Linked DNA regions of Homo sapiens. The protein of the gene in region 1 purifies or fractionates together with the protein of each later gene. This does not show direct contact. Each region holds a gene or a part of one and is shown on either strand. Other genes may lie near its edges.

What was found.
Region 2: the proteins of PCDHA12 (region 1) and FRMD5 purify together in Homo sapiens (affinity purification with mass spectrometry; 2 studies listed by BioGRID and IntAct, with this or other methods). This does not show direct contact.
Region 3: the proteins of PCDHA12 (region 1) and ZNF518A purify together in Homo sapiens (affinity purification with mass spectrometry; 2 studies listed by BioGRID and IntAct, with this or other methods). This does not show direct contact.
Region 4: the proteins of PCDHA12 (region 1) and AGAP1 purify together in Homo sapiens (affinity purification with mass spectrometry; 2 studies listed by BioGRID and IntAct, with this or other methods). This does not show direct contact.

The regions. Positions count from the first base shown.
Region 1 is NC_000005.10:140,878,306-140,885,337, reverse strand, and holds part of PCDHA12 (protocadherin alpha-12 isoform 1 precursor), read right to left. Parts: intron 3,215-7,032; exon of another isoform or gene 3,070-3,214; coding exon of another isoform or gene 646-3,069; exon of another isoform or gene 458-645; intron 1-457. Other genes in the region: PCDHA13 (protocadherin alpha-13 isoform 1 precursor), read right to left, coding at 676-3,069. UniProt on the Homo sapiens protein: Potential calcium-dependent cell-adhesion protein. May be involved in the establishment and maintenance of specific neuronal connections in the brain.
Region 2 is NC_000015.10:43,919,253-43,926,284, reverse strand, and holds part of FRMD5 (FERM domain-containing protein 5), read left to right. Parts: intron 1-1,975; coding exon 1,976-2,080; intron 2,081-6,475; coding exon 6,476-6,518; intron 6,519-6,747; coding exon 6,748-6,826; intron 6,827-7,004; exon of another isoform or gene 7,005-7,032. UniProt on the Homo sapiens protein: May be involved in regulation of cell migration. May regulate cell-matrix interactions via its interaction with ITGB5 and modifying ITGB5 cytoplasmic tail interactions such as with FERMT2 and TLN1.
Region 3 is NC_000010.11:96,154,269-96,161,300, forward strand, and holds part of ZNF518A (zinc finger protein 518A), read left to right. Parts: intron 1-1,057; 5' UTR 1,058-1,108; exon of another isoform or gene 1,109-1,655; 5' UTR 1,656-1,779; intron 1,780-1,928; 5' UTR 1,929-2,054; coding exon 2,055-6,506; 3' UTR 6,507-7,032.
Region 4 is NC_000002.12:236,127,043-236,132,325, forward strand, and holds the end of AGAP1 (arf-GAP with GTPase, ANK repeat and PH domain-containing protein 1), read left to right. Parts: 3' UTR 1-4,751; downstream 4,752-5,283. UniProt on the Homo sapiens protein: GTPase-activating protein for ARF1 and, to a lesser extent, ARF5. Directly and specifically regulates the adapter protein 3 (AP-3)-dependent trafficking of proteins in the endosomal-lysosomal system.

The DNA.
Region 1 (7,032 bases):
CTTCAAACTTTGGAAAAGAAATAATAACAAAAAGCCTACCAGGTCTCTCTCTATATATGTATATATATATGTATGAGTAATTATCTGAATGCAAATAAAAAATTGAAAGCAGAATCACAAGATATTTTTCATGGGATATATGAGAGGGGAACACTGATGTGCCTAGAGGACAAAAAAGTAGAGACAATCAAAACAGTTTAAAAAAAGAAAGAAAGAAAAGTGCACTTAAAAAAAGCATTTATGTGAAAAGTTATGGGGCTCTTTAAAATAATATCTTGTGGGTATATGTATACATTAAACTAAAAATTTTTTAAATTTAAGATTACGATTAGCCTCATTAAAACAAACATTTTCTAAATGTTTAAGTTCTCACAACGTGAGGAATTTTTTGTAAATGCTCAATTGCAAGATAAATACTTAGAACTATTAAGAATACAACAGAAACAAAATATTCTTGTTTTGCACATTTCATTATGGTTTGTGAGTTAAGATTTCACTCTGAAGGATAATCCAACACATAATGTCCACAGCAGAGTTGTTAAATTCGATAACAACTAGCAAAATTAAAATTAAAGTAAAGAATAATTTGAAATTGGCAGGAAAGATGTCTTAAACAAACAACTGCAAGGAAGGCTAAAGTGTTTACTAAGACAATTTTTTAAAATATAAGCTTACCTCTTTCAAGCATTCTGAGTCCTCCTCCCTCTGGCCTGTTCCCTCTGCAGAACCCAGACAAGGAGGAAGGCTGGGACTGAAGGCCATGAGGTCCGTCTTATGCGGGCCCTCCCCAGAGCACACCCTCGGCCGCCTCTGCTGCGAGTACGACCAACTCCCTGCCGCGCTGGAGCACACTAGAGTGGGCTTGCCCGGCGCGCACGCGCCCTCGGTGGGCGGTGCCGAGCACCGCAGCGCAGTATACAGCAGCAACGTGAGCACCAACAGGCTGGACACCGCGCAGATGGCAATGATCAAGTAAACATTGACATCCACCAGCGCCGCTTCTGGACCCACAGCGCCTGCCGACGCCCTCGACGAAGCCTGTGGCGCTTGGCCGCTCTCCACCAGCGACAACAGCACCGTTGCCGTGGCCGTCAGCGCGGGCTCACCGTGGTCCTTCACCAGCACCAGAAGGCGGTGGTGCGGCGCGTCCACCTCGTCCAGAGGGCGCGTCGTGCTGATCTCGCCAGTGTACAGCCCCACGCGGAACGGGATGCGCGCGCCGACCGCCGCCAGCTGCAATTCATACGAAAGCCACGCATTGTAGCCCGAATCGGCGTCCACCGCGCGCACCTTCGCCACCACGTGGCCTGCACCCACCGACCGCGGCATCAGCTCGCTCACTGTGCCTCCCGCGCTGCCAGCCCCGGGCGTCAGCAGCGCCGGAGCGTTGTCGTTCTCGTCCAGCACGAACACCTGCAGCGTCACGTTGCTGCCCAGAGGCGGCACGCCAGAGTCGCGCGCGCTCACCTGGAACTGCAACAGCTCCAGCTCCTCGTGGTCCAACGGCTGCAGCGCGTACACCTTGCCGCTCTCCGCGTGCACCGACACGTAGCTCGACAGCGCACGCTCGCCCACCCGCCGCTCCACCAGCGAGTAGGAGACCAGCGCGTTCTCCTGTGCGTCCGCGTCCTGAGCAGACACCGTGAAGATGTGGCAGCCCGGCGGATTGTTTTCCTTCACGAACACCGTGTACTCGGGCTGCGCGAACGCCGGCGCGTTGTCGTTCACGTCGGCCACCCCCACCGACACGCTGGCCGTGGCCCACAGCGAAGGCGAGCCCCCGTCCCGCGCGGTCACCACCAGTTCATAGGCTGATACGCTCTCGCGGTCCAGGGCGCTGTCCAGCACTAATGAGTAGTAGTTCTTGTAGGTGGACACCAGCTTGAAGGGGACATGCGGCGTCAAGGTGCAGGTGACCTGTCCATTTGAGCCAGAGTCACGATCGGACACACTGATTAGGGCAATAATGGCGCTAGGCTGAGTGTCTTCTCTGATGGGGAGTGACAAAGAAGTGATGGTAACCTCTGGGGCGTTATCATTTACATCTAGTACTTCCACCAAAAGGGTACAATGACCCGCCATTGGAATATTTCCTTTGTCAACTGCCTCCACGGATATTTCATATAATTTCTTTTCTTCGAAATCTAGTTTGCCTTTTGTCCTAATTTCTCCATTGTTCGGATTTATGGTAAATGCATATACCACTGCAGGCCATACAGGCCTTCTAAATGAGTAAACTATATCTCCATTTGTACCATCATCAGGATCTGTGGCATTTAGCTTGATCACTAATGTTCCATTGAAGGCGTTCTCTAACACCGTCACTTTATAAACGGATTGGTAAAATTCCGGGGCGTTGTCATTCACGTCCAGAATCGTGATGAGCAGCTGAACTGTGCCAGTCAGCTCGGGTTTACCTCCATCACTGGCTGTCAGTAATAAACTATGTTCCTGAATTTCCTCTCTGTCCAGTGTTTTCCTCAGTACAAGTGATAATGAAGACATTTGCTCAAGACTGTTTTGTGCGTCCAAAGTGAAATAATCGTTGGGATCCAGTCGGTAGGTCAATGCCGAGTTTACTCCAATATCTGCATCGGATGCGCCATCTAGTGGAAATCGAGTTTCCGGAGGTCTAGATTCTGCAATGATTATTCGTTTCTTGCTTTCAGGGAATATGGGCGGGTTGTCGTTAATGTCCCTCACCTTCACCTCCACATGGAAAACCTGCAGAGGCCTGTCCACGATCACCTCCAGGTGGATGCTGCACTCCGCGCTCCGCCCACACAGCTCCTCGCGGTCGATCCGAGAATTCACAAACAAAATGCCATTCTGCAGATTTACCTCCAGAAGGTCCCCGTGTCTTTTGGACGCCACCCGGAACAGGCGCGGCACCAGCTCCGCCAGCTCCAGCCCCAGGTCCTGAGCGATGCGGCCCACGAAGGTGCCGTGTTTTGCTTCCTCGGGGACGGAGTAGTGGAGCTGGCCACTACCCGTCTCCCAGGCTGCGAGGATCAGAAGCCAGAGCAGTAGTTGCCGCGGTCTTGGGCCTCCTTGCCAGGAAGACAGCATGGTACACTCCAAAAACCTCAGAGCTATCTGCAATATATACAACGCCTTACCTCAAACTGTCTCTCAAGGCCCAATTTTTATGGCTTCCTAGTGCGGAAGGATTCGCAAGAGGTATTCCGCTTTCTGCTATATTTTCTGCAGGAAGAAAGAAACGGCGGCTTTCTTCGCGGAAACGTTCTCAGTGAAGAGCGACACCATGCGCATGAACGTGTAAGTGTAAGTATGACTCAGTCTTCATATTTTCCATTGATGTAGTATTTTTTTGCCCCTTGCATTTCCTGACATTTTCACTGCAAATATGTAATTGAAGATTAAATGTTTACCTTCCCAGAAACAGCAAATCACTGCATTCTGCTCAACATTTTATATTAGCTGACAATTGGTTGATGAGTTTCATTTTGCCACAAATTTATTTTTCCATGTGTAAGAATTCCATGCAGAACTTTAAGACAAAGAATATTCGACACTCGTTTTGGGACAATTGATCGGTAGTTCTGCATAGTCATGTAGGTTTTTGTGGTACTGTCCTCTTCCTGTAATATTTTTCAAGACCTCCTCACACAACAGCCATTGACTCCAAAAGGAAACATAACAATCACATAAGAATAAAATCGGTGAAGGTGAAAAATATTGGTAACTGATATATCAGATTTTGAATAAGCACATCATATTAATAAATTTCCCTCAATGTGACTTGAGATGTAGATAAGATATTTATATTCAAAAGAAAGTGTTCAGTCAATATGTGTGGGATTTTGTATGTGAGTGTGTGTATGTGCATAAACACAATAATTTAGCCACAACAATGCTCTAAGGTTTTGGATTCTGTTTTTATAAAATATGCCTGGAACTAATATCCTATTGATTTAATAGAATTTAACTTACCGCCGCCGGCTGCAATTCATACGAAAGCCACGCATTGTAGCCCGAATCGGCGTCCTGGTTAAATAGAATTTAACCAGGAGGTTAAAGTTTCCATTTTCTCTCTCCATCTTACTTCATCATCACTGAGTAAAACCTTGCCGTCATTTAAATTGACTTTAATTTTCCAAGAAACAACAGCTAGACAAAGATGTTAACATATCTTTAGCAAGGAAAAGAGGAAGAGGATCTTACTTTTATCTATTGTTATAACTATCTCTACCAAGCCACAAAATCCCAGGCCAAATGGTGTAATGAAAAATATATCATAGCTCCAATAATTATCTGGCCTGTTCTGTGCACAACTCTATAGGAAATGACTGTTGGGTTTATTTCCATAGCTCTGCTCTCCTCTGAAAATTTAGGCAGAGTATTTGGTATTCTCTTACCCTCATCATCCTCTCCTGCTCCATTACTTTTACTAACATAGTATTTCTCTTCTAATTCTTTCTATCTGGCCCTACATTTCTTTATTTACCTCTTCACATAATTAGACTACATAGTCAACCATTTAAAATATGCCCTTCCAGACACTCTAGAGTCATTCACCTATTTATATTACTCCTCTAACATTCTTTTTAGCCTCCAACACGCAGTTACACTGACAATCCATTTTCTCTATGCTTCCTATTAAGCTGCTCAACATTGTCACTTAACCATGACTATTCTCTTCAAATTTACTCTCACCTTTACCTCAGTTGGGCTCTCAAGTGAATTGATAATTAACTCCTCCCTCTTGCTTACAGAGATTCTTCCATATTCTCTTTCCTCTCTTCTCAAATTCTCAACCTCATTTCCATCAGTTCACTTTCAGATGATTCACACATTGAGAGATGTGACCAAACAGAAATTCAATTGCTCTCTTCTTGTGTCATTTTTCCTTATATTATCTGTTTTCATTTTCTACTAGTTGTAAGGAAAAACTGTTCCCGCTTTTAAGGTCAACCATATGCTCTTAAAAATTATTTTCTATTCTCTCATGGTTTTCATCTAAATTCACCTGCTGCCTGTCTTATTTTTAGTATCTTATTTTTTACTTGTTTCTTTCACTCACACTATGAAGATAGTCAAACTTCTTTAACTAAAATATGTATACATACACACACGCACATACACTAATTTAAATGTTCTACTTCTGGTGGAAAACCTCTTCTGTTTATCTTTTTCCCTTCATGTTTAACTTCTAACATATACTTGATATATTGCACTTTGAGCTTTATTTCAGCTTCCTGTTGTCTATCCTTCTATGATTTTAAGCCTACTATAATAGGTTGAATTGTGGTCCCCAAAAAGTTATGCCCACATCTTAATCCCTGGAACTTGTGGATTTTACTTTATATGGTGAATAATATGATTAAGTTAAGGATCTTGAAAGGAGTTTATCCTGGATTATCCAGATGGGCCCTAAATACAATCACATGTACCTTTGTAAAACCAACACATAGAGAGAGACATGGAGAGGAGGAGGCAATGTGACCATGAAAGCTGAGAAGGCTGAGATGGGAGTGGTACAGCCACAAGCCAGGGAACACCAACAGCCAATAGAAACTGGAAGAAACAAAAACCAGATTCTTCCCTGGGGCCTCCAAAGAGAGTATAGCCTTGACAACACCTTGATTTTGGACTTCTGGTCTCCAATACTGAGAAATAATAAACTTTTGCTGTTTTACAGCACCCAGTTTGTGTTCGTTTGTTATAGCAGCCACAGGAAGCGACACACTTACCCACCTAAGTACCTGGACACATTGTTTTTCACTTTTCAATGTCTGTCTTGGCAATTTTATTCTTTCATGGATTATTTTTTTCTCTAAAGGAGTTGTTCCCAAAATCTATATCAATAATCTCTTCTGAGATCCAGACCCATATTTCCAATCACAACGGTATTCTCTTAGGACTTCAAAGTAACATTTTCTTAAATGTTCATCTCCATTCCCTACCTGCTCAAATACACACAAACTGTTTCTCCAACCTTGTTCTGCAGGTTGGTTAATGGCAATGTCATCTTCTCAGCTGAACAAACTAAAAAAGTGAGAGTCAACTTCTACTTTTGTTTTTCTCTTATCATTTGTATTGAGTCTGTCATTATCTGGCTGCTTCTACTTTGCCAGTGCCTCTTGTATATGTCTTTTTCAATTCATTTCTACTGCCATAATTTAAGTCTCCATTACTTGATACCTAATTTATTAAAAAAGAAATAGCTTTCCTGCCTTCACAATCTCCCCTGCTCTAATCCTTCAATTACACCATATACTGTGCAGTTGTTCCTACTTATCTCTCTTAACACTTTCTTGGTAAAATGTTGTCTATCTTTCAAGACACTCTTCAATAAAACATTATCTGATTTCTAGGGCATACTCTCATTTCTAAGATAGAGGGGAATGTCCAGGTAATACATTTCAATACCATATATTTATTTAAAATTATTGATTGAAGCTGGGAGTGGTGGAGCCTGCCTGTAGTCTCAGCTACTTGAAAGGCTGAAATGGAGGATCAGTTGAACCCAGAAGTTCTAGTCCAGCCTGTGCAACATAGCAAGACCCCCATATGTTTTTAAAAAGTGATTGAACATATACTATATTCCAGATCCTAAACTAAAGATATGTAAGAAAGTAGATATAAGGCTGGAAATTTTAATGCCTTTACTACCAGGCTGGGGTATGTAAGACTTTATTCCCTGGTTAAAGAGAAGCCTCTGGATATTTTTGTAGAAATAGAAAGTTAAAATATGTAAAATGCACATTAGAAGATTCACTTGGTAATAGGCACAGGGCAGTGGTATACTATGATAAGTTTGGGATCATCTGAAACTGGTTTGAGCCACAGTTGGTTACCAACTGTACTGTATCGTACAGATGGTTAAATATTTTTAAATTGAGAAATGATTTTATTATATTTCATGTAAATAAGAATAGTACAGTATCTATTCCTACTTGAAATAAAGAAGATATTTTGTGAGCAATGAAGAAAATCATTCATCATATGTCAGACATATCATTTATATTATTGTGATAATACCTGGAATATAATGTGAAAATGTCTAGA
Region 2 (7,032 bases), on another chromosome or scaffold:
CAGGCCAGCGATGGATGCTGTGCAGGCTCCAGATGTTTTGACAGGTTCCTGCAAGTCATTCTCCTCCCACTTCACCCTTGGCATCCAGGCAGGTCTCTGAAGTAGAAGGTTATGGGTTATAAACGGCCTAGCTTTTCACCATTTTGTGAAATCTTTTAGCAAACCTTTTCCCTTCTATTCATTCAGTAATTTATTCAACAAATAATTATTGAGGACCTGCCTGCCATGCATCAGGCCCTGTGCTAAGTTCTGGGGGAAGGATTCTGACCTCATGAAAATTACAGTCTAGAAAGGAAGCAGATAGTAAATAGATAACTAAACAAATCAACAAGATAATTACAGATTGGTATAAGTGCTATGAAGGACATAAATGGCAAAATGAGATGGAAAGTAACTGGGAAGGGCTGTACTATAGGGAAAGGCCTCTCTGAAGAGGGGACATTTGAGCTGAGTCCTCAAAAAATAGGAGTGGCTGCAGAGAGCTGCAGGAAGAACATTCCCGGCAGAGGGAATGCAAAGACAGTGGCAGAAAAGCCTTGGGGAGTTCAGAACGGAAAGGCCATGGCTGAAGTGTAGTGAGGAAAATGATTTTGGGTGAGTGCAGAGAGAAGCCAGGCTGTATAGGGCCTGGGACGCCATGATCAGAGTTTTCATTTTATTCTGAGAGCAACAAGAATTAAGAGAAGTGAGTAACATAAAGATCATTGTATGTTCACTGCCACATTGTTTGTAATAGCAAATTAGAAACAAATGTCATCAATATGGAACTGGGTAAATAATTTTAGATTCATTGCAGTGACATGCAGCAGTTAAAAACTGTGAGGCATATCTATATATATTGCCATAGAAGGATTTGCAGGATACCCTAAGTGGGAGAAAAGAGCTTAAAAATATGTTACAAAATGTATTTTTAAAAGAGGAGATGTATATGTATGTAGGTTTGCCTGTGTATAAAACATCACATAAAGGATATACAAGAGGGCTGGGCATGGTGGCTCACACCTTTAATCCTAGCACTTTGGGAGGCCGAGGCAGGCAGATCACCTAAGGTCAGAAGTTAGAGACCAGCCTGACCAACATGGTGAAACCCCGTGTCTACTAAAAATACAAAAATTAGCTGGACGTGGTGGCACATGCCTGTAATCCCAGCTACTTGGGAGGCTGAGACAGGAGAATCGTGTGAACCCAGGTGGTGGAGGTTGCAGTGAGCCAAGACTGCGCTATTGCACTCCAGCCTGGGAGACAGAACGAGACTCCATCTCAAAAAAAAAAAAAAAAAAAGGATATACAAGAAGCTGATAACAGTTGCTTCTAGGGAGAGGAACTGGGGCACAGGGTGGCCAGGGTGGAAGGGAGACTTACTGTTCATAGTATATCCTTTTGTTTGTTTAAATATCCTACAATGTGCCTGATCACTTATTCAGCAAGAAAGAGATGATGTCTAAATTGTGGACACCCTCATTGCTGTGCGGAGAATGGACTGAAAGGGCAAGAGCAAAGGCAGAAGATCAGTTAGAAGGCTCTGGCAGTGGTCCTGTTGAGGGATGGTGGTGGCTTGACCTATGGTGTTGGTAACAGAGAGGAAGAGAAGTGAATGGATTCAAGATTTACTTTAGAGGCTCAGTCAGCTGGGCCTGGTGTAATTATTGCTGTATTCCACACTGACATTCCCTACACCCACAGTTTAAGAAAGCTCTCTGTGCATTTGAGATGGGAACTGGGCTTACCTGACTCTACCCTGACTTCTCTGACATCTTTGTGGTGGGAAGGGTTCTTGGGCTCCTTCCAGGTGCTAAAAGCCTCTGGATTCCAGACAGTGAGTGATGTATCACAATGTGGAGGACATAGTTATGGACATTCACCCCTTTCATAGACACATGCAACAGTTACAAACAACTTTTAATGGCTATAAAAAAAAAAAAAGTTACACTGAAGAAACCCACTCATTTCTCAATGGAGTTTTCTTTCTTTGCAGAGAGATGCCAAAGGCCAGTACCTGTTTGACCTTCTTTGCCACCATCTGAACCTACTTGAGAAAGACTATTTTGGTATCCGCTTTGTAGACCCAGATAAGCAGCGGGTAAGTCAATATTCAAAGCACAAAAGGAGGACAGGGCTAGTCAATAAGACTGAGGTCTTGAACTGTCATTCATATTCAAAGTCAAGCTTCAGGAATCAGGGACCAACCAGACCCTGCAGTTGGATGTCGTCTCTTCAGATCATAGCATTAGACCTGGAAGGCACCTTGGCTAGAGCTCACCTGGAGAAGCTTGTCATTTTACAGTTGCTGAAATGGCAGGCTAGGGAGCTTAAATGATTTGCACAAAGTTGGAGGCAGAGCAGCTGGGCTGGAGTTGTGGTCTCGGAGCCCAAGTCACAGGGTGAGCCTCTCCTGCCCACTTTCTAGTAAGCAGGCTGAAGCACATTGTACTGGTTAGGAAAGGCCTCACCAAAGGTGCCATACCAACCCAATCTAGGCAGTACAGACAGAGCCAAACCAGCGCGGGCCTTTCAGCACCTTGCAGATCTTGCAGTTCTTGCTCTGCTCTACACAGCATAGGCAGCTCTGCAGACACAGGGCATTCTGATAGCCAAGGGTGCTGATATTCCAGACAGATTCAGGAACAAGTCCATCATCTCAGGCCCCTGCCTATTTCTCCAGCTTCATCTCCCCAACCTGCTGTGGTCCCGCCAGACAGTAATACTTTTGCCCTCCAGATACATCATACCTTCTTTCTTTACAGAGCCTTCACCTATAGAGTTCCCCTGCCTAGAATCTTCTCCTTTTCCTTACCGCTCCACACTCCACACCCTTCTTCCAGCTAACTCCTTTTCACACTTAAGGTCTCAGCTTAGACTTTTACTTCCTCTGGGAAATCTCCCCTAACCCCACTCTGTATTAGGGATCCTCCTATGGGCCCCCATGTGCCCTCTGCTACCCTGTTATAGCACTTATTACATCATTCTGTGATTACCTGTGTTCCCTGCAAAAATGTAAGTTCCATGAGGGCCTGGACTTTGTCTCATTCATCACTATCTCCCATTTAACTAGCACAGGCCTACAATGTAGTTGGTGTTCAATAAATATTTTCTGAAGAAATGAATGCATGAGTGAGTTAATGGCTTATAGTGTTGTATTTCTTACGTCCATTTGCCCAGCCTCCCAGCTTGCAGACACCTGCAGTTTCTATAACTTCCCTTCATCTACCCTTTGCTCTTTGTGGAGATGTACTCTCTGGCATCCCCACCAAAGTAGAGAGGTAATGATGGTGTTTCTTTGTTTGGTCCAAACTTTTATCCTTAAAAAGGAAGGCTGGCTGTGTGCACTGGCTCATGCCTGTAATCCCAGCACTTTGGGAGGCTAAGGCAGGCGGATTGTTTCAGCCCAGGAGTTCATGACCAGCCTGGGCAACATGGCAAAACCCCGTCTCCACTAAAAATACAAAAATTCGCGGAAATGGTGGCATGTGCCTGTAGTCCCAGCTACTTGGGAGGCTGAGACATGAGAATCACTCGAACCCGGGAGGTGGAGGTTGCAGTGAGCCAAGATCACACCACTGCACTCCAGCCTGGGAGACAGAGCAAGACTCTTGTCTTTAAAAAAAAAAAAAAAAAAGGAGGGCCAGTTACTCCAAGATCTCTTCATCCCCTAGAGTGGTGGTATATGAAGAAAAAAAGGCGAATTGTATCCTGTTCATTGGTTTTTTAGTTAGGTCAGAATGTGCTTGAGGAGAGTAAGAGAATATGTGGATGTGGTGAAGGTTAAAATGAGAAGGAACTAGAGAGAGATAAGAACATGGGAAAGAGGAGAAGTAAACATTTATGGAGTTCCTACTGCTTGCCAGGCTCTGCGCTGCACACAAACCTAATTCTTCCAGCTGATGTATACTGCTCACTGAGTCGTGCCAGGCACTAAGCTAAGAGCTTCACGTATGTTATTCCATCTCATCCTTAACAAAATGAGATGAGTATCCCTAATGATAATATCTGTTATCCAGATGAGTAAATAAAGTCTCAGACAAGTTAAGTAACTTGCCCCAGGTCAGTGGCAAAGCCAGCCTCGAGCTCAGACCTGTTTGACTCCAGGGCCAGTGTGGTTTCTGAGATTCCATGCTGAATGTATAACTGATAGCCTCTGAAAGTTGTGTAATTCTGTGCCTTGCGGGAGGGGTTAAGGAGAGCAGAGAGGCTTGAGACAGTAACTGAGGGTTGTAGGGAAATGGGGACCTGTAGAGAGTTGTCCTTAGTCCACTGATTCATGGTAGGGATGGAGGAGCTGAGCTCCCCTGCTCCCTCAGGGTGTAAGGGCCTAAAATAAACCTCTTTCCCTGGGTCTCAAGACAGTCTGAACCCAGCACTTACATCCATCCGATGTCAGTCCTTGCTCTGCAGGAGCCTCCATGCATCTGCAAGCTCTCCTGGTCTCTCCTGGAGGAGCTGCCCTTACTTTCCTTCCCCAGGATGCCTGACTCGGGCCCAGGGCCTCCACCTTCTCTTGGCCTCTGCTTTGTACCCTTTCAAGCCCCTAGAGTCTGAAGATTGTGCCACATTGGCCCATTCACTCAGATAGGGGAGGAAACCCTCCTCTCTGAATCTTCTTTTCCTCTTCTTTTAATCCCTCCTCCCTAAGCCCATGTTGTCTGTTTGCTAGTGAATCTGGGACCGATTTGGTCAGGCATTTGCAAAAAGCCACTCTGGCCATCACCATATTCTTGGGTTCCTCTCAAGATTTCTCTGCCAGACTCCAAATCCCATGGATCAGCTGTGACAGCTCTTCAGTCCCTTCTCACCCCTTGCTACTATCCTCCAGCCTCAGTCCTTTCTTGAGCTCTCACTACAATAAAACTAAAATCTTCTTTCTAGCTATTGTCAAGGGGAATAGGCTTTTGTCATTCAGCTTTATCTGCCCTCTGCTGATAATGCATCTCACAGTCATTAATTTCTACCTTCCTTTGTTTATTTCTTTTAATCTATCAGTCTAATGTCTGGGGGTGTTGCTGTTCTGTGTACTGAATCCCTGGCACTGGCTATGTTCTCCTCACTGTCCACAATTCCAGTGTGCTCTGAACAGATAGGCCTCCTCCGTCTTCACAGGCATACCCTGGAACCCCAGTTGTTTCTGAGCAATTTCATCTCTTGCCTTTGCCTCCCTGTGAAGCTGAGCCGCGGTGGGCCGTGTAATGTGAGAAGGGCCTCTTAACCACATTGAGTGGCTATAATGAGTTGCCAGCCTCGTGGGAACTCAGATCAGCAGAAGCAGGAGAGCAGAATGTCAGTCCAGATTATCCATGTGGAGCTGACAGAAGAACTGGCTCTTAGTGGGTCCATTAACTGCATGACCCATGGCCCAGCCCAGAAGGTGATCACTGGGAATCAAGGGAGGCCAGGATGCTGACTGCAGCGCCCTGGCTGCTCTCCTGCCAGAGGGAGGACTCTGCCAAGACATTACACTAAATTGAAGTAGCCAGAAAAGAAGGAAGTATGGGCCCAGTCCCTTTGCCATTCAGCAGCTACCTATTGAACACTGTGCTAGGCACTGGTGATACAGTGGTAAACGAGACTGACAGTTCTGGGCCTTCATGGAGCTTACATCTGGCAATGTTAAGCTACCTCTGGATAATCAAACTCCAATTAATAGCAGTCCTACCTAATCTTGATTAGCAAAAAGCAACAAACATCAATAATAAAATTTATAAAGGACCCATGTAGAATTAAGGAACACATATAGAATGGTTTCATTGCTTCCCCCAGACGTTAAGTACCATGGGAAAATGTATTCTGCCTCTATGTCCTGCCTCCTTGAAAAATCCAAGGGGAAGAAGGTACTATCCTACACGTTGGTTGTGGTTAGTTATCATTTGAGATTTAGATTTTAAAACATCACTGGATGCCAAGGAATCCTGAGTATGTGTTTTCTAACACAAGGGTTGGCAATTTATGTTACTCAAAGAAAGATGGAATATATACCAGCCATCCCTGACTTAGGAAATTTCCACTTCTCACTACTTTCTAGAGTTGCTACCAAAATCTTCTATTCCCACTCCCCTGCCAAAAAAAGAAGAAAAAAAAAGCTGGTGCATAACAGAAACACACACCACCCATTAAAGTCAGTATTTCCCGACTCAACCCAGGTGGGGCTCTGTCCCCGCCACACATACATGCAGTCGCTTGTGCCTTAATCGCATGCCAAAAACATGGCTCAGAATTTTGGCACCCTGCTTTAGAAGACAGCATTTCCAGGGAAGCCCATAAATGGCATCTGAAGCTGGAACTATTCCCCCCTTCACAGCTGGCTCCATGGGAGCTCATTTCAGAAAATCATATCACTCTTTACTCACCAAACTTATCTTTCATAAGCTTTTGGGCTGCTTTCACCCTAGGCTACAATCTGTCTAGTTTTTTAAGTTGGAGAAAACAAGTTATATTTTACAGCCCTTCTCATTAGGGTTTTCATGTTCTGTGTTCTCTGTTTCAGCATTGGCTGGAATTTACAAAGTCTGTGGTGAAACAATTGAGATGTAAGTATTCTCCATGAAAAGACTCAAGCCACACCCCTGGGGAGGGTGGGACGAAACCTCCCACTTATCTCAAGTTTTGATCTACATATATAATTTCCCACTGTTCTGAGTATAAGTTGGCCCTAAATATATGAGGGTTCTCTTCTGCTGCTTCATGCTAGTGGGCAGAAGAGCCCTGTCCTCTTCTGGGTGAGAGTCTTCCCTGATGAGCACCTCTTTTTCTCTGCAGCCCAGCCTCCATTCACCATGTGCTTCCGTGTGAAGTTTTATCCTGCAGACCCTGCTGCTCTGAAAGAAGAAATAACCAGGTGAGGTGAACATGCTTCCCGCAGCCATTAGGACCTGTTGGAGAGCATAGGAAAGGGGGATGGTGACCTCTTAGAGCCTCTCATTTGGAAGCGCCTAACTCTTAGAGGCAAGGAACTCTTCCTAAATATAATGACTTCTGTATTTCATTTCCACATGCTTTCTTCGCGTACCCCTCAGTGCAGTCGCAACAGAGTGGACTTCTTTC
Region 3 (7,032 bases), on another chromosome or scaffold:
AGCCTGCAGTGAGCCGTGATGGTGCCACTGCACTGCAGCCTGAGCGACAGAGTGAGACCCTGTCATCAATCTTTTCTTTCTTTCTCTTTCTCTGTTTCTTTCTTCCTTTCTTCCTTTCCTTCCTTCTTTCGTTTCTTTCTCCTCCCTCCCTCCCTCCTTCTTTTCTTTTTTTTCCTTCCTTCCTGCCTTCTTTTCTTTTTTTTCTTTTCTTTTCTCTTAACAAAGCAGTGAGTTAAAACCTGACTGTTGGATTGTAGAGCCTTCAATTAGTGTCTAGTTCATTCTCCTAGAAAGACAAGTGCTCTGCTTGGCTAGTCATTCTGAAATCATCTGTAAGCCCCATCTTAGTTTAAGAATAGCCATCAGATAATTCTTCTCAGCCTTTTCTCCTGGTTTCCTGACAGTTCCAGTTACTTTTTCAGCTTTTCTTCTTTTAGGGCCCTAAAAACCCTTCATGAGGCCTTCATCTTGTGTTACCTTTTCTTTGTAATACTAAAGTTTTATGACAAACATCCCATTCTGGATTCACATTTTACTGTATTAGTCATGGCATGTAAAACAATTCAATAATTGGTACCCTTCTGATTAATTTATTATAGATCTCTTAATATGTAATTCAACTTTTAATGATTCCCTCAGTAAAGGATTTCTAAAACAGTAAAGTTTGTAGGTATTTAGATTAATTGAAGTTTAAAGCTGAGACCTTTGGATAGACATTATGGATGAGGAGCTTAATGTGATTTATACTATGTTTTGTTTAGCTTATCTGATTTTGTCTATTCATACATATATATATATATAAAGCACAAAATTAAAAACATGTAATTTTTCTAATAATACAGTTTGATATATTAATGACTGAACCTTCAGTATTCAGATTCCTGTCTCAACAATATATTGTTATGTCCCATACGTGGTAATCACATAGAGTAATAGTGGTAGCTGTGATTTATATGGCACTTTAAAGGATATTTTTACATATATTTTCTCATTTTATCTTCACAACAACCTTGTGAAAGACATAGGGGAAGTACTAATTTTTCCCCCCATTTTACAGATGAAGGAACTGAGACACAGAGGTTGAGACTTGTCTAAAGTAACATGACCAGTAAGTGCTTGAATTAATGCAGGTAGGTAGTGATGGGTATGTTCTAATCTGCCAAGGGCTTTTCCTTGCTGTCATCTGGCTTGAGTTCTGAGGATATAAATTCATATAGCCAAAATGGTAGGGAACCAGAAAGGTAATGAGTAGATGGACTTTAGGACTACACTAGGGAAATGGTGCTGCTGTTCTTTTTAATTTCTTCCTTTTTGTTCTTTTTGTTTGGTTTCTAACTTGTTAGTAATGATAAGCAGATACCGTCTTTGGTTGTTTCCGTTAGATGAATGAAGCTTTTGTTTTAATTGTAGATTATCCCTGAGGAACTAAGGAAATAGAAAATCTGGAGAGAAGTCTGTTGGGATTCTCACAGGGAATAGCTATTAGATCAACTAAGCAAATGAAAAAGTTAATAGTATATGGATAAACCACATGTGTGTAATTGGAACTTCTTAGGATTCTAAGATTTTTAAAATCTTGTTTAAAAACTGTATTATCACCTTAATATAAAAATCTTAGCGCTTGAGCGTACTTACCCAACTGTGGTTTTCTTTAGATGAGGAAACTGAGGTCCAGAGAAGTTGAAGTTTTCCCAAGGTCACACAGCAGAGCTGGAACTAGAGCTTGCATTTCCTGACTTCCAGATTAGTGTTATTTTTACTTCAAACTATTACTTCTTGGTAAGCTGTTCTTAAAATACTTAAAAAGTCTTTTGTATATTTAATTTATGTTTTTGATTAACATTCCTACTTTGTGCCAAAATGAACTTACAGATACGAATTTACTATTATTTTTGTGATGAGAATTTCAATTCTTTGTTTAATTTTAGGTGAGTTATTGTGGGAAAAATCCTGTATATTGAAGATGTCTCTACACAGTATCGTTTCCTGTTTAAATTACAGATAACTTCAAGAGTTTTCAGAAAAAAAGAAATTGGGACTTTTTTGGTTAAATCATGCCATCTGAACAGAAACAGTTATTTTGTGATGAAAAACAAACTACTTTAAAAAAAGATTATGATGTGAAAAATGAGATAGTTGATAGGTCGGCACCTAAACCAAAAATTTCAGGAAGTATTCATTATGCACTAAAAAATGTGAAAATTGATTTGCCAAAAATAAATATTCCAAATGAAGTCCTATTGAAACATGAAGTTGACAAATACAGAAAATTATTTCAGAGTAAACAGCAGACTGCAAGAAAATCTATCAGTATAAAGACTGTAAGCTGTGTAGAGGAGTGTACATTGCTTCATAAGTCTGAGAGAGCTGAAGAAGAGGGTGTAAAAATGTCTGCAAAAATACTCAATTTCAGCTGTTTAAAATGCCGAGACAACACTCGATATAGCCCAAATGATTTGCAGAAACACTTTCAAATGTGGCACCATGGCGAATTACCTTCATATCCTTGTGAAATGTGCAACTTTTCAGCAAATGACTTTCAGGTATTTAAACAACACAGACGAACCCATAGAAGCACTTTAGTAAAATGTGACATTTGTAACAATGAGAGTGTATATACTTTACTGAACTTGACAAAGCATTTCACATCCACACATTGTGTTAATGGTAATTTTCAATGTGAAAAGTGTAAGTTCTCCACCCAGGATGTTGGCACATTTGTTCAGCACATTCATAGACATAATGAAATTCATTATAAGTGTGGTAAATGTCATCATGTATGTTTTACCAAAGGAGAGCTTCAGAAGCACCTTCATATTCATTCTGGTACTTTTCCCTTCACTTGTCAATATTGTAGCTATGGTGCCACCAGGAGAGAACACCTTGTAAGACATGTTATAACTTTGCACAAAGAACATTTATATGCAAAAGAAAAACTGGAAAAAGACAAATATGAAAAAAGAATGGCAAAGACTTCTGCAGGACTTAAGCTAATACTGAAAAGATATAAAATAGGTGCATCAAGGAAGACGTTCTGGAAACGTAAGAAAATTAACAGTGGAAGTGACAGAAGTATAGAAAAGAACACTCAAGTGCTTAAGAAAATGAACAAAACACAGACTAAATCTGAAGACCAGAGCCATGTTGTTCAAGAGCATTTAAGTGAAGAAAAGGATGAAAGACTACACTGTGAGAATAATGATAAAGCCCCTGAATCAGAGTCAGAGAAGCCAACTCCTCTGTCCACTGGGCAAGGTAATAGAGCTGAAGAGGGACCAAACGCTAGTTCAGGTTTCATGAAGACTGCTGTACTAGGACCTACACTGAAAAATGTAATGATGAAAAATAATAAACTAGCAGTTTCCCCTAACTATAATGCTACGTTTATGGGCTTCAAGATGATGGATGGAAAACAGCATATTGTATTAAAATTGGTGCCTATCAAACAAAATGTATGTTCACCAGGCTCACAGTCAGGTGCTGCAAAGGACGGTACTGCTAATTTGCAGCCCCAGACTTTGGACACTAATGGATTTTTAACAGGAGTAACAACTGAGTTAAATGACACAGTTTATATGAAAGCAGCTACTCCATTTTCATGTTCATCTTCTATACTTTCAGGGAAAGCAAGTTCAGAAAAAGAAATGACTTTGATATCTCAAAGGAATAATATGCTTCAAACAATGGATTATGAGAAAAGTGTATCTTCTTTGTCAGCAACATCAGAATTGGTTACAGCATCAGTGAATTTGACCACAAAATTTGAAACAAGAGATAATGTTGACTTCTGGGGAAATCATCTCACTCAGAGTCACCCCGAGGTATTAGGTACCACCATTAAAAGTCCAGATAAAGTCAACTGTGTTGCCAAACCAAATGCATACAACAGTGGAGATATGCATAATTATTGCATTAATTATGGCAACTGTGAGTTACCTGTTGAATCCTCCAACCAAGGATCATTACCTTTTCATAATTACTCAAAAGTGAATAATTCTAATAAACGTCGTAGGTTTTCAGGAACAGCAGTGTATGAAAACCCTCAAAGAGAATCTTCATCCAGCAAAACAGTTGTCCAACAACCAATTAGTGAATCATTTTTATCACTAGTGAGGCAGGAGAGCTCAAAACCAGATAGCCTATTAGCATCTATTAGCCTTTTAAATGATAAAGATGGAACTTTAAAAGCAAAATCTGAAATTGAAGAACAGTATGTTTTAGAAAAAGGACAAAACATTGATGGACAAAACCTGTACAGTAATGAAAATCAAAATTTAGAGTGTGCGACTGAAAAATCTAAATGGGAAGACTTTTCTAATGTCGATTCACCTATGATGCCTAGAATCACATCTGTTTTCTCTCTCCAGAGCCAACAGGCATCAGAATTTCTGCCACCTGAAGTAAACCAATTGCTTCAGGATGTATTGAAAATAAAACCTGATGTAAAACAAGACTCTAGTAACACTCCAAATAAAGGCTTGCCACTTCATTGTGACCAGTCATTTCAAAAACACGAGAGAGAAGGCAAAATTGTTGAATCTTCGAAAGATTTCAAAGTGCAAGGCATCTTCCCAGTTCCACCTGGCAGTGTGGGTATTAATGTGCCTACAAATGATTTGAATTTGAAATTTGGAAAAGAAAAACAAGTGTCATCAATACCACAAGATGTGAGAGATTCAGAGAAGATGCCTAGAATTTCAGGTTTTGGCACATTACTTAAGACTCAGTCAGATGCGATAATAACACAGCAGCTTGTAAAAGACAAACTACGAGCCACCACACAAAATTTAGGTTCTTTTTATATGCAGAGTCCACTTTTAAATTCAGAACAAAAAAAAACTATAATTGTTCAGACTTCAAAAGGATTCTTAATACCATTGAACATTACTAACAAGCCTGGGCTACCAGTTATTCCTGGAAATGCACTTCCATTGGTTAATTCACAAGGTATCCCTGCTTCTCTTTTTGTAAACAAGAAACCTGGGATGGTTTTAACACTTAATAATGGGAAACTTGAAGGTGTTTCCGCTGTCAAAACCGAGGGTGCCCCAGCTCGTGGAACTGTGACTAAGGAGCCTTGCAAAACACCTATTTTGAAGGTAGAACCAAACAATAATTGTCTTACACCTGGACTTTGTTCCAGCATTGGCAGTTGTTTGAGCATGAAAAGTAGCTCAGAAAATACTTTGCCATTAAAAGGCCCTTACATTTTGAAACCAACGAGTTCTGTGAAAGCTGTTCTTATTCCTAACATGCTATCTGAGCAACAGAGCACTAAGTTGAATATCTCCGATTCAGTAAAACAGCAGAATGAGATTTTTCCAAAACCACCTCTTTATACCTTCTTGCCTGATGGCAAACAAGCTGTTTTTTTAAAGTGTGTGATGCCAAATAAAACTGAGCTGCTTAAGCCCAAATTAGTCCAAAATAGTACTTATCAAAATATACAGCCAAAGAAACCTGAAGGAACACCACAAAGAATATTGCTGAAAATTTTTAACCCTGTTTTAAATGTGACTGCTGCTAATAATCTGTCAGTAAGCAACTCTGCATCCTCATTGCAAAAAGACAACGTACCATCTAATCAGATTATAGGAGGAGAGCAGAAAGAGCCAGAATCTAGAGATGCCTTACCCTTCTTACTAGATGACTTAATGCCAGCAAATGAAATTGTGATAACTTCTACTGCAACATGCCCAGAATCTTCTGAGGAACCAATATGTGTCAGTGACTGTTCAGAGTCCAGGGTATTAAGGTGTAAAACAAATTGTAGAATTGAGAGGAACTTCAATAGAAAAAAGACTTCCAAAAAAATTTTTTCAAAAACAAAAACTCATGGAAGTAAAGACTCTGAAACTGCCTTTGTATCTAGAAACAGAAACTGTAAACGAAAGTGTAGGGATAGTTACCAAGAACCTCCAAGAAGAAAAGCAACATTGCATAGAAAGTGTAAAGAAAAGGCAAAACCTGAAGATGTCCGTGAAACATTTGGATTTAGCAGACCTAGGCTTTCAAAAGATTCCATCAGAACTTTGCGGCTTTTCCCTTTTAGTTCTAAACAGCTTGTGAAATGTCCTAGGAGAAACCAACCAGTTGTAGTTTTGAATCATCCTGACGCAGATGCACCAGAAGTAGTAAGTGTAATGAAAACTATTGCTAAATTTAATGGACATGTACTTAAGGTTTCATTGTCAAAAAGAACTATAAATGCTTTACTGAAACCAGTTTGTTATAACCCTCCTAAAACAACTTATGATGATTTTTCCAAGAGGCACAAAACATTTAAACCTGTTAGTTCTGTGAAAGAAAGATTTGTGCTAAAATTAACACTCAAAAAGACAAGCAAAAACAATTACCAGATTGTGAAGACTACCTCTGAAAATATTTTGAAGGCTAAATTTAACTGTTGGTTTTGTGGTAGAGTATTTGACAATCAGGATACTTGGGCTGGTCATGGGCAGAGACATTTAATGGAAGCTACTCGGGATTGGAACATGTTAGAATAGTTTACCATAATTACCAAGGAAAAGAAAAGTAAAATTACCTTAGAAGAAAACAACGGGTTCAGTTACCATAATGCAGACATTTTCTACTTCAGTATAGTACCTGAAATCGAACATTTTAAAAGTTGATTGTATTTCTGTGGAAGAGTAAAAGTTGTATGTATGATATTTGAAAATGCTATCCCTGCACTCAAAAGTTTTGAAAGAAACTAATCACAGCACAGAAGTACCTTGATTTAATTTTTTAAACGTGTTCTCGGGAAGTTAGGGCTAAAGAAAATTTTGATAAAACAATTTTCCCACTTTAGTTCTTTAGTGACTCTTAGTAGAGGGTAATGGCTGACACCCCCATTCCCTCTCTTCTTCCACCAGCCTTATGCATCTAAGTGTAGCTCCTCTGGAGATGGAGAGCTCTTTCATCGTAGAACTGAAGGAGTTTCTCACATTTGTGAAGATACTTTGAGAGAACCTGGGTAAAGAAGTCACTCTATATCTGCTAAATATAGTTATTTTGAAGGATATTAGGCTC
Region 4 (5,283 bases), on another chromosome or scaffold:
ATTAAAACTCTCCCTTGATGAGAAACAGCCAGCTGAGGGAGGCCCACGAGCGGCCTGTGTAACCCCATGGGTGATCTGGACACATCTGCACCCCCGCGTTCAGCTTCGCGGAGACTGAACTTGGCGGGGAGTGGAGGGGTGTGGTGCAGACCTGGCTGCAGCAGAAACACCCCGCAGGGACAGTACTCTGTGATTCTGACCTCAGGTGCTGGGACGGGCAGATGGTTTCCCCCGCCCAGCACCCCAGTCCTGGTCCCTGGTCCCTCTCTCTGTTTCATCCCAGGAAATGAGCAGCTCGAGGGTGAGCAAGTGACAAGTTCCTGAGTCACTGGCCCCAAAACCAGGTGCAGTGTCCTGTCTCCCAAGTGTGTGCACAATGTATATATGCACTGGAAAGGAGGGAGAAGGCAGCGGGTCACTCGCCAATCGCAGGGTTCTCAGACACAGGAGAGAGCGGGATCTTAATGAATTGCATTTCCTGCAGAGCCTCTAGTGCACAGGCCAGTTCTCGGCAGTGGCTTTTCAGCACAAGGGCCTTGCATTGAAGCTCCCTCTTCTGAGATTTCACCCAGCCTGATGAGGCCTGCATGGTTCCGGCCTCGTCATCCAGTGTAGATACCAGTCTTCCTATTTTTGTGACATCTGCACATTTGGGGTCATTCCCTATATCTGCATAGGAGCTATTGCTAACCTTGTTAGGGAGAAACATGGTCTAATGAGAAAGACAGACCCCTAGGCTCAGCTGGCCCTGCCATCCTTCCAGAGGATTCCTCTGCAACTCTAGGCAAGCACCCAGCTTCCTGGGCTCTTTTTCCTCATCTGTGAAACTTGCAGGGTGCAGTGAGGTTTCAAACCAGTGTGATAAGTGTTGGCCTCACACCTGGCCCAGGGGATGCTGGGAGAACAGGAGCACTTGTTAATAACAGAAACACTGATGGGACCGAAGCCAGTGCACACACCAGGAAACCTGCCCGTGGCTGACACTGTCCTCCAGCCTGCATTCTGGGGAGGCTGTGATGGGCACGTTTGCCAACCCCCCCCCCCCAGTAGAGCCCAGGACCCTCCTCTCTCAGCTTGCCAGTGCCCTGCCCTCCACATGGCGGGGAACAGCATCAATGAGGTCCTTGCTCCCTGAGAGCCTCTCTGGAACCTGCCCACTTTTCTCAACATGTATATTCTGCTTTGTAGTCTGAGGTTGATTTTCTAGAGGCGAGGAAGGGGCTGAGTTCTGCCCTCGTGCTGTTCGCTGGTGCTGATCAGGGCCAAGACGACCCTTCCCTCTCCCCCACAGCCTGTTGAGGTGCCGTTGACGTGGACAGCGCCCCTCCCTTAAGATGCCCCCTTGCCGTTGCCATGAGCCGCTGTGACTCACGCGTGCACTGGGCCTTGCTTGGTGCTCCCCTCCTCCTCCTGTCTGAGATCGGAGCTTGCTGGAGAGCACCCCAGGTCGCCGTGCTTGGCTGCAGGCCCGTCCCTCTCTCCCCATCCTCGGGTTCCCAGCGTGTTTTGTGCTTGAACTTGGTGGACTCATCTTACCCCACAAGAGTGGCCTGCTCAACCTGCAGCCTCCAATGTGCCGTAGGCGCTCTAGGTCCCCGTGGCGCCCAGGACACCAACTCTCCCTCCCTGCACTTAGGATGTTCTGGAAATGAGAGGAAATCCACATTCCTGCCCCAGGAGGTGGGAAGCCTGGCAACGATGTAGCTTCCCCTGAGATGCGGTATGATCAGGCCTCAGCAACTACTCAGGAGGCAAAGGTGTTTGGAAAGCAAACCCCAAACCTCCCGGCACGGCATGTGCTCTGCTTCCGTCCCTCACCGCCTGCACAAGGTCGTTGAGACTTTTCTAGAACTCCCCGGGGTTGTATTTATGGCCTTCAAGCAAACAAATTGAAAAGCAGTCAAGGAGGAGTTCAGATAGAAAAGTGCTGGAGATACACATCTTTCCTTCAAAGGAAATGTAATTTATTTCCAACCGCTGCCTCAGACGGGGGTTTCACATGTTGTGAAGTCACATCTTGAATGACTGTCACCCTCATCCTTCCCCAAAAAGCTAAATAAGGGCCTTTGGCATCAATGCGTGCATTCTCCACCTTTCCGCGGCTTGCGCTTGGATTTCTGAGTGGCTTTCTTCAGGGAGCCCTTGTGGTCATGTGTCTTTAATGCTGCTCCCCATGCCCCCAGGCCAGGCCAGCACGCTCAGGTGATAGCGAGTGGGGCCAGGAGACCCCCCTGCCCTGCCCAGTGGACAGATCTGCCCCAGCCCTGCTGTGGGGACGGGCCCTCTATCATTTAACCACATACATTAGGTTGCTTTTCAGCAAAATGTCAGCTTTCCTCCCATTATGCAGGAGAGAGAAGGGGCGCAGGTGTATCTCCTTAGAGTACACCTTGGAGCTGGATCACTAAGAAACAGTCCTCAGACTGGTCCTTCCGACACAGGCAGAGAGTGAACTGGATCGCTGGCCCCTGGGATGCTGCGCTGTCTGTGATTAGAGAGAAGTGGCCAGTGTCCCGTCTGTGATTAGACAGAAACCCCTGTGGCAGACTCCTCCCCTCTCCATGAAGAAAGAAATATTTACTTAGATATTACTGTTTCAAAACACAAACTTTATTCCCCTTAGAGAAGAAATACTGCCCTTAAATAGACTGTTGAAATATTAATGGCCCCCCCATTTAATCAGTGTGTCTGCGGCTTTCTTCGCGTCACATGTCCGCATTGGCAGGTGATTCTGGAAAGGGATTCTGGGAAACCAACAAGTCTTTTTTAAATCTTTGAGTTGTATGAGAAAGTATTTAAGTTCACCAGTGTAGTAAACACCCACCCCAGAGCAGCGGTAAGCAAACCTAAATCTGAAAACCCATTCTTACTGTCTTTCACCATGAGATGCTGGTTTTGGTGTAAAATGACAGCACTTGGTTTGGGGTTTTGCACCTGTTGGGTAGAACTGTTCTTGTCTGAGGTCCTCACCCTCTACAGATGGGCCTCAGGGCCTGGAGGTGGGCAGATGGGGCCAGAGTGGCCAGCAGAGACTTGCATGGGCTCTGAAAGCCCCAGAGCTCAGGCCTAAGGCTGCTAGGTGAGACCAGCAGGCAGCTGTGGCATCCGACCTTGGGACGCCCAAGCTGGGCAGCCGCTCCATGTGCCCCAAACAGGATATCCTCATGAATGTGAGGAGAGGCTGGCTCAGGGCTTGGTTTTCATTTTGGCCTGGCACAGGGTACCTGTAGGGAGCACTCCCCCAACCTGAGGATGGTGAAACCATATGATAGAGACTCCTTGTCGAAGTCCACATCGGACTGATCTAGAATGCCCCGTGGGGGGATTGCATGGCCTTTGCCTTGAGATGCAGGTGAAAGAAAGGAACCAAACAAGGCATGAGTGTGTTGGGGAATCTTCCCAGTGGAGCAAACCCCCTTAACACACCAGCTGTTGGGAACAGCTGCCCCTAAATCCAATTAAACCCTCATCTCCCTGGTGCTGAACAGTCTACACTGGCCCAGGAAGCTAACGTCTGAGCCGCTTGGAGAGCTTTGGTAAACAGAAGACACTGGAAGCCCACTCGGTCAGCAGCTGGGCATGAGGATGTCAGGGGCCTTTGGACTTGAGGAAGGACAGTCCAGGTGCATGGAATCCTAATGGGCCTCATGCAGACACTGGAAGCAGCCCAGCCCCCTGCCCAATACCACAGCCCTGGGGTGTCCCCTGACATTCCTGGAGGTCCCTGGGCAAATGCATTTCCTGCCTGGGTTCTCAGGGTAGGAGAACAGAGAAGGCTCCAAGGGTGTTGGGAGTGAGCCAGGGGCTGGTCTGGGGAGTGGGTCTCACGCACTGCTCAGGTTGGCACGAGGGACCTCCCCCATCCCAACCCAGCCCCAAGGGTCCCAGCAGGGCTCTCAGCATGGCTGTTTTGAGGGTACACAGGTGGCTGGAGAGGGGTGGGGCAGTTGCATGGTGGGTGGCAAAGTGTGCATTTAGAAGCTGCTTCGTGGCGTTAAGAACGGGGGGAGAGGGACCAGCACTGTAACGTTAGAAATAATTCCTTCTTGCAGACTTGAAAAGCATCAGTTTCCCTCCCACGGCTGGGTTTTTGTGTCTGAAATACATCTAATTCTCCAGACTGCAGCCCCTCTCAGCCCCGAGCACCTGAGCGCTGGGGAGGCCCTTATTGAGCTCAGCCTGGAGAGGGGAGGGTCGCACGGGTCCCGGGGGCAGGTCTCCTGCACTGGCTCTTCCCTTCTGCCAGCTTGGAATTTGGTTCTCATCTTGCCACAGGGGTGCGTTTCCTAAAGGGCAGCCGGAGCAGCTCAAAGGTGACAACTGAGATGCATTTCTAGGCAGGGGCAGGGAAGGCCAACCCACCTTGCAGCCAGTTTTCTGTTTCTGTAAATAGCAGTGTATAGAGATGGAAGGGCAGCGTGGGTGTATCCACAGATGGGTTTAGGTTTTTTTTTTGGATGTTTTCTATTACCTCATTCAGCAACTTTATGTTTCACAATGACTCAATGATGCTTTATTTATATTGTTTGTACTGTAATTAAAACCATTGACAGACATTTCACTTTGCTTGTTATTTCATATGATCTTGTTTTGATTAAATATGCCAGTTTGTATTTTCCTGCCTTGGGATTTTTTTGTGTCCGCTGTACAGTATTCTAAGGGAAAAAGAAAAAGAAAGATGTGTAAAGTAACAGAGAGAGGTGGCTATGGTGTAGAGACCTCTTTCTAATAAAGAAATGAAAATATGTCTACACCGCTTCCGTGGAGTTGTTGTTTTTTGTTTTTTGTTTTTTTTTTTTTTGGTGGCGTTGGTCATTTGTCACAACTAATTGTGTTTCTAAGCCCAGGAAAGGTAAATCAGAGAGAAAAGGGGCTCTGTCTGCTGCGGGCAGGGATTGCCCCAGGCCCAGGCTGCCCCAGGCCCGAGGGACTCAGCACACGAGTTCACAGACGGAATGAAGAAAGAGACCAGGAGTGTCTCTTCTGACTTCTTCCTTTACAAGGACAGAAACTCCAAGAGAATGTTCTTTGCCCAGCCAGGGTTGACTGGGCCCAGAACTTCCAGATGCTTCTGTATCTTTGCACTGTGCCACACTGCCCCAGGTGTGTCGTAAGAACTATTCCCAGCAGGTGGCTAGCAGTAGAACCATCCCAGGACTCTATTATTAAGACCGTTATTATCATTAATATTACTGTAATTTTTGCCTACAAACTACATTATATCTTCCCCTCCAAAAAAAAAAAATGAGAAAACTGACCAGGCCTGGTGGTTCACACCTGTAA